Homo sapiens: one gene and its partner. The protein of the gene in region 2 interacts with the protein of the main gene of each other region in a pairwise test. Each region holds a gene or a part of one and is shown on either strand. Other genes may lie near its edges.

What was found.
Region 1: the proteins of GPRIN2 (region 2) and LNP1 interact in a two-hybrid assay, tested with the Homo sapiens proteins (one large-scale study listed by BioGRID).

The regions. Positions count from the first base shown.
Region 1 is NC_000003.12:100,407,986-100,411,794, forward strand, and holds part of LNP1 (leukemia NUP98 fusion partner 1), read left to right. Parts: intron 1-3,809.
Region 2 is NC_000010.11:46,553,569-46,557,892, forward strand, and holds the start of GPRIN2 (G protein-regulated inducer of neurite outgrowth 2), read right to left. Parts: upstream 3,091-4,324; 5' UTR 2,930-3,090; intron 2,849-2,929; exon of another isoform or gene 2,486-2,848; intron 1,962-2,485; exon of another isoform or gene 1,807-1,961; intron 1,144-1,806; exon of another isoform or gene 1,128-1,143; 5' UTR 1,017-1,127; intron 498-1,016; exon of another isoform or gene 1-497.

The DNA of each region.
Region 1 (3,809 bases), on a different chromosome or scaffold from region 2:
CCTAATTTTGTTGACTTGTTTCTCTGTATTTTCTGAAGTTCTTTGAGCTTCTTTAAAACAGCTGTTTTGAATTCCTTGGCAGATAGTTGATATATCTGTGTCTTTAGGGTCTATGACTGGCATCTTATTTTGTCTGTTTAGTGATGTCATGATTCCCCGATTGTTCTTGTGGTCATGTGTCAGTGTGTGTGCATTCAAGAAGCAGTTACTTATTCCAGCCCTCACAATCTGGCTTTGTCTGGGAACATCCTCTAACAGTAAGCCTGTCCAGAGATTCTAGGCAGGTCATTTGGTGTGGTCTCCGAGCCTGTGACCACTGCAGCCCTTCCAGCTCTAGGGAGTGCTATGTACTCCCTACTGTGACCAGCACAGTGCCACGCTGAAATCCCGTAGTCACTGAAGCTGACTTAGCACTGGGATGGAATCCTGTGGCTGCTGAGGCTGGTGCAGCACTTGGGTGCACCCAAAGCCCACAGCTGCTGAGGCTACTGCAGCACTGGGGTACATCTGAAGCTTGCAGCCACTGAGGGGGCCTGCCTGTTGCTGTGGGTTATTTGGATCCCAAGACCACTGTAGTTGGCTGATGGTGATGTGGGCTGGAACTCAAGTTTGTCTCACAGGGGCTATGGTTTCCCATCTGCTGCCGGGATGGGTCTAGAGTCTCAGTCTGCAGTTACTGGCCTGAAGTCATGGGTCATGGGGGGGTCTACCCAGTGCTGAGTTTTACTGTGACAGGCCTGGTATTGGGGTCCAAGGCAAAGTCTTACCTTTACTTTCCTCTCTTCCTCCCAAGCAGACAATATCTTTTTCCGGGCTGTGCTGCCTGGTCTTGGGGGAAGGGTGACATGGGTAATGTAAAACTGTTCTTCCTACCTACTTAAATGTGTCTTTTCTTATTATTATGCTATAACCAGGTGCTATAATCTCTCACCTGGTTTCCTTAGCTCTCGTGAAGGTATTTTATACATAGATAGTTGTTCAAATTCATATTTCTCTGTGGGAAAATTGCTGGAGAGTCCTATTCCACCATCTTGCTCTACTTTCCTCTGTGAGAATGTTTTGGATGAGATTGATACTTGAATTGGCAGAGTGAGTAAAGCAGATTGCCCTCAGTGTGGTTGGCCCTCATTCAATCAGATGAGGGCCCAAATAGAACAAAACTTGACCCACTGATGAATAAGAGGGAACTCCTCCTCCCTAAGTTCCTTGAGCTGGGATATTCATCTTTTCTTGCCTTTGGACTTGAACTGAAATATCAGCTCTTCTTAGGTGTAGAGCCTAGTGACTTTCAGACTGAAAAGATACTATCAGCTCTCCTTGGTCTCCAGCTTGTTTACTATAGGTCTTAGCCTCCATAATTTTGTAAATAAATAAATAGGCTGGGCACGGTGGCTCATGCCTGTAATCCCAGCACTTTGGGAGGCTGAGGCGGGTTGATCATGAGGTCAGGAGTTCGAGGCCAGCCTGGCCAAGACAGTGAAACCCTGTCTTTACTAAAAATACAAAAATTAGCTGGGTGTGGTGGTGGGCGCCTGCAATTCCAGCTCTCTCTCTCTCTATATATATATACATACACACACACACACACACACACACACACACACACATATATATATATATATTTTTTTTTTTTTTGAGTCTCACTCTTATAGCCCAGGCCAGAGTGCAGTGGCGTGATCTCGGCTCACTGCAACTTCCGCCTCCTGGGTTCAAGCGATTCTGCCTTAGCCTCCCGAGTATCTGGGATTGCAGGTACCCACCACTGTGCCCAGCTAATTTTTGTATTTTTAGTAGAGACGGGGTTTCACCATATTGGCCGGGCTGGTGTTGAACTCCTGACCTCAGGCGATCTACCCACCGCAGCCTCCCAAAGTGCTAGGATTACAGGCGTGAGCCACCACACCCAGCCTAAATATATATTTGTATATATTTAATTAAATATATGCATAAATATATATGTACATAGCTTACATCTATCTATCTATCTATCTATCTATCTATCTATCTATCTATCTACCTATTTTATCTGTCTATAATTAGTCTTGTTTCTCTGAAGAACCCTAATACAGATTTTGGTACTAGGAATGGGGTGCTAATGTAACAGAAAAATACCTAAACAAATGGAATTAGCTTTGGAACTGATTGATGGGTACAGGCTGGAAGATTTTTGAGGTGCCTGCTAGAAAAAGCCAACATTGTTGTGAGGGAAGTGTTGGTAGAAATATGGATATTAAAAGAAATTTTGGTGAGGGGTCAGAAAGTAAAGAGGAGAGCTAGAAACAAAGCTTCCATTTTCTTAGAGAATACATAAATACATGAACAGAATATTCATTCAAATGTGGATGTTAAGGGCCATTTTGGTGAGATCTCAGATACAAATAAAGAACAGACAGTTGGAAACTGGAAGGTGATCTTTATTATAAAGTAGCAAAGAATATGGCTGCATTGTGTCCTAGTGTTGTGCAAGGTAGAACTTGCAAGTGATGAAATTGGATACATAGCAGAGGAGATATCTAAGTAAAGTATCAAAGGTACCCCTTGGGTCCTCCTTGCTGCTTATAGTAAAATGCAAGAGGAGAGAGGTGAATTGAAGAAGGAATGGTTAGGAAAAAGGAGCCAGAACATGGAGATTGGGTACAACTCATGGACTTAATCAGCCATCTCATCAGAAGCCAAGAATAGAGATGGGATTTTACCAGCAGAAACACTGCTGGCTGAGACTAAGGAAACAGAAAAAATGAGACAGGATGAAGGAAAGCTATCAGACTTAGATTTTACAGGATGGGACCATAGAGCTATTTGGCTCTGAAAATACTTTATCCTTCAAGAAAAGGGAAGACTGACTCCAACAGCAATTCAGAAATCCTCAGGGCTGCCAGTCCCACTACAGGCCCAGGGAGTAGGTCTGAATCCTTCTGTTTTTCAAAGAGTGGGTGTGCCCTTCCAGTTTTGGTGGGTCAGGAACCCTTGCCTACTATATCAGGGTCAGGGTCAGGTTTGCCCTAGCAGAGAGCTTGTGGACTGGCCTTACTCCTTAAGCTGAAGGGGCAAGGCTACCCTGTAGAGCTGTGAGAATGATACTACCACCCGAGAGGGCCTGGGGGGCAGAGAGTTGAACCCAAGAGGGTTATTCTCTAGCTTTAAGATCCAAAGGAATTTTCCTTGCTAGATTTTGGACTTGTTACAAAAGCCATCACCTCTTCCTTCTTTGCTATTTCTCCCTTTTGGAGTGGGACTGTCTATCCTATGCCTTGTCCCATCATATTTTAGAAGCACATGACTTGTCTGGTTTCACAGGTTCACACCTGCAGAGAATTTTGCCTCAGGATGAATCACACTTCAGTTCTCTCCCATACCTGATTTAGATGATATTTAATGAGACATTGGACCTTAAGCTTTAGAGGTGATGTTGTAATGAGTTAAGACTTTTAGCACATTAGGGTGGGATGAATGATGAATGTATTTTGTATGTAAGAAGGGCATGAATTTTGGAGGCCAGATGCCCCACTCTTAGTACCAAAATCTGTAGTACTCTACAAGTGTTGCTGTAACAAAATACCACAGACTGAGTGGCATAAACAGCAGAAATTTGTTTATCATGCTTCTGGAGGCTGGGGAGTCCCAGATCAAAGTTCAGGTCTGTTTGTTTTCTTGTGAGGGTTCTCTTCCTGGCTCACTGTAGGCCACCTTCCCTCTGTTTCTCACATGACCTCTTTGTATGCATGCAGAGAGAGAGAGTAAACTCTCTGATGTTTCTTCTTATAAGGGCACTAATTTCATCAAACCAAGGCCCCACCCTCATAATCTCA
Region 2 (4,324 bases):
CAGACCCCCACCAAGACCCACTGAGAAGCCATGAGCAATGAGCATCCCACTGTGCCTGTCTCACCAGAGGGCTGCCCAGCACCCAGGGCTAGTCATCACCCAGAGACCCCCGTGTGGGCTATGTATCTATTGGTTCCCTTCCCCATTCCCCCTCCACAAGTGGCAGGTGACAAAACTGAGGCCTGGAGCAGCTCAGAAATGTCAAAGAACACACAGCTGAAAGTGGCTAATTCAGAACCCCAATGGATTGGCCTGGCTAACTACAACCTGGCCTTCCCAGCTCAGAAGGAAGGAAGGGCTCTGAGGGGAGTACTGGGGGAAAGAGGCTTCCACACTGCCTGTCACAGTGCTGTGGACTGGGCCAGAGGAGGGGCCTCCCAGGGAGCCAGGGGTGAGGAGGAAGGGGCAGGGCTCTGCTTCCAATGGGGGCTCTTCCCCTTCCTGTGCATGTACTCACAGGTGGACCCCTAACTTCTTTGAGCCTCAGTTTCTTCAATCTGCAAAACAGAAATAAATCCCCACCCTGCAGGGTTGTTGTGAAGACCAAATGTGACAGCATGTGCACTGTCTGCAATAGTGTTTGTTAACAATAATCTTCTCTTTCCCCTCCCATCAAGAGCAGCTTAAGTTCATGGTATAACAAGTATTAGTACTGGGGGCCAGAGAGGCCCTTTTCAGAAGCCATCAAGACACCCCAAAGGTTAGCCTCCTCTAGCTTCCCATCCTCGCTACCTTCATCCCATCCTAGGACCAGGTCACCATCAGTGTCCCCAGTCTCCCTATCACCAAACTAGGTTTCCCAGAGCCTATTTTAAATGTTAACCTAGGAGGCTACGCATGCATACAAGTCTAGAGTCTGCACTTTAAATGCCCAGAATGGCACACCCACCCTGCCTTTATAACAACACAGAAGGTTCTGGTTTTGCCCTAAAGGGACCCTCGGAAGATCTTTTAGGACAAGATAAAGAACAGGCATACAGAAGTATCCAAGACCTCTAGTATTCTTTGAACGATACCTTAATGTTCTCTCTCCTGCCCCATTTGATGCCGAAGTTGCTATGGTTGTGGCCGATGTCCCGTGGCCAATGCCAGGCTGTCCTGCTGCCTCAGGTTCCACCTGTCAGCAACTGGAAGATCAACCACCTATGTAGCAATCAACCAATGTCATTTTGAGTAAAAGCCCCCAGTTCTCAGACACTTCCAGACTAGCCCAAACATAGAGACCTTTGAGTCAACGTACAGAGTCCAGCTCCCGCCATGCTGCCACAGCAGAGGAGCCCAGGCCTTTGGGATATGCCCAGGGGACTACCAAGACCACCACAAGTGGGCTCCATCTCAGACAACACTGTGGCATCCATCTAAGTCCCCTCTTGGTTTTGTTCGTTCGTTTGTTTGTGAGACAGAGTCTCGCTCTGTCTCCCAGGCTCGAGTACAATGGCTCAGTCTCGGCTCACTGCAACCTCTGCCTCCTGGGTTCACGTGATTCTCTTGTCTTAGTCTCCCGGCAGCTGGGATTACAGGCGTGCACCTCGGCGCCCAGCTAATTTTTGTATTTTTAGTAGAGATGGGGTTTTCGCCATGTTGGCCAGGCTGGTCTCGAACTCCTGACCTTAGGTGATCCACCTGCCTCGGCCTCCCAAAGTGCTGGGATTACAGGCATGAGCCACAGCGCCTGGCCCAAGTCCCCTCTAGTTAAGTGGCAAGCATTTGGATGATGACTTATGTGTCCGGCAAAACCAAAACAGGAAAAGCAAACCTATATGATCAGGCAGGAAAACTGGTTCTATGTTAAAATATGGACCTTACCTCTCAAGGACCAGGCAGGAATGCACACAGCACAAACCCCCATTGCACAGTGGGGATACAGCACCCTCCAGGAGGTGGTTTAATCCACCCCAGAGTGAACGGGGCCTGATAGGAACACTCAGGGCCAACTCTGGGCAAAGCAGCAGGCAGCATTCCTAAAGGGAGGGTTTGGAGGAGACAAAACCTGCCCTTCACAATGAACGTGCCTTAAGGGCTACATGCCCCGGGTCACAAGCTGTGCCAGGAAAGGGTTCTGGGGTAACTGTGGGGTCAGTGGCCCCATGGATGAGGCTCTGCTCACCAGGAAGAGGCCTAGGCGCCCAACAGCCCCTGAGCTTCCTCCCCTGGGGAGGATTTGCCCACAATCCCTGGGGGGCACCTAGGTGGAGAGGGTGCCCCGGCCTAGAAGCAGCCTAGGCGGCCGGTGTGTCCCTATCTGCACGCTCACAAGCACTCATGCCCCAGCCTGGGACACACAGGCCCGTATGCAGTAACAGCGTCTACCCAGCTGCACTCTGCACGCCAAGCACAGGCCGCCCCTGCTGCGGGGCCAAAGGCCTGAAAGCACCGCACCACGCAGCCTCGCCCAGAATAGCTCCCCTCCCGCCCCTCCTGCACAAAGCCCACCCGGACTTAGGGAGAAGGGGGCTCAATACGGGCCCGAAACGAGGCTACAGACCTTCTCAGGAGCAAAGGCAGCGACTGCAGGCAAATGGGGCTGTGGGCCGGGGTAATGATGCGGGACAGGAGAAGCCAAAGGGCAGCAAGGCTGGGGGCGGGGTAGGCGGCGCAGTAGGCTGAGGGAGGGGAAAAGGAAGAAGGGGAGAGGGAGGAGCGATGGCAGCAGGGGTGGAGGCCGAAGGAGACAGGGTCCCGGACAGACTTGTGAAAATGGGAGGATGGGCAGAGGAGACGTAGAAGAGGGGACAGGACAGGACAATGAGAGGCGGAGCGCGGGGAGTGCGATGCGGCCACCGGGGGCTCTGGGCGCTGGGCAGGGGCCAGGATGCCGGGGGTCTGAGCGCAGGCAGCGGGAAGGAGTGGGTTCTGAGGCTCAGCAAGGGGGAGGTGCCGCCCACCACGCCCCCCGCCCCAACGGGAGCGCGCGGAGCCAGCCTCTCACCCTCTCGCCCGCCGGGGCCGCGCAGGCGGGGGAAGCGCTGCTCCTGCGGCCGCCACAGGTGCCAGGTGCCGCGGCCCAAGATGGAGCCAGAGCCGACCTGGCCTGGGCGCGAGACGCCGCCCGCCGCCGTCGGCCCGGCCCGCGGAGCAAGCGCCGGGTACAGGGAGGGGCCAGCGGGGCAGCTGGCACCGGGGCGGCGGGAGGGGCGGCGGGCGGAGACCTCGCTCACCTGGGCCCGTGCCACTCTGGAGCCTGCCACCGCCCCGCCGCGGCCCGGGATCTGCGTCCGCGCGCCCCCACCCCTCCTTCCCGACCCCTCCTCAGGCCGGGTCCCCACTGTCCTCGGTCTTTTCGGCCCCGCCCGCACCACGACCGCCTGTTCTCCAGGCTGCCCAGCGAACCCCCAAGACTCCCACTTCCCCGACGCAACCCCACCGTCCCGGGTGTATAGGCGCAGCTCCCCACGATTCTCCGGCCCCAGACCCAGCCCCTCAAGTCCACCTCCTCGTAGCCCCACCCCCTCGCTCCAGTGCCCCTCGCTCCAGTTCCCCCTCCGCACCACGCCCCGCATTGAGGTCTCCGCGCCGGCGGCTACCCCTTTCCTCTCGCCTTCTCCATCCTAGCTCCGCCTCTCACAATTCTCTGGCTCCAGATCCCGCCCACGAGACCCCGTTTCCTATAGGGCCCTTTCGTCTGGGATACCAGGCCTGGTCTCCACTAGCCTCGGACTTTCCAGCCCCAGGTCCCAAATCCTGGACCCACCGTCCCATCCTCTGAGCTCCACTCTCATGGACCCCAAACCTCACTCCAGTCCTTTGAACTCCATGATCCTGGCCTGGCCTGGCCCCCGGAGCCCTCCATTGCCCCTCAAGAGCCCAGCCTGGTAGACTCCTTCCCTAGGGTTGCATCTCCAGCCCCGCCCCTGAAGACTGGTAATCTACCACCCCTTTCCCTGCCCACGTGCCCCTACCCAGCCCGACTTGAGGCCTTCAGTCTCCCAGCCGCGGACCCCAACAGCGGGCGAGGGCAGTGACCGTGCGGGGATGAGCCACCTCCACTGGAGCCCGCCTTCTTCTCCGCAATTCCCCGCAGCACCACAGCGCCTTCCCGGTCCCGTGACGCCGGGGGCCAGCCCAGGCCCTGGGATCGCCAGGTTCCACACTATGAGGCTGAGGACCTGGGCCTACGGTTCCCTCAATATCCCCCAGTTTCCACAACCGCTGGCCAGCTTCAGGGCGCAGGACAGGCAGCCCCGGCCTCCCGCCACTCGCAATAGATTCCTGCTGTCCACCCAGGGCCACGTGGTATGAGGCACCTGTACTATCTCTGGGCCCCAGTATCACATAATTGGGTCCCAATGTTGGCACTTCTCCGTTGTCCCCTGTGCCGGGACCC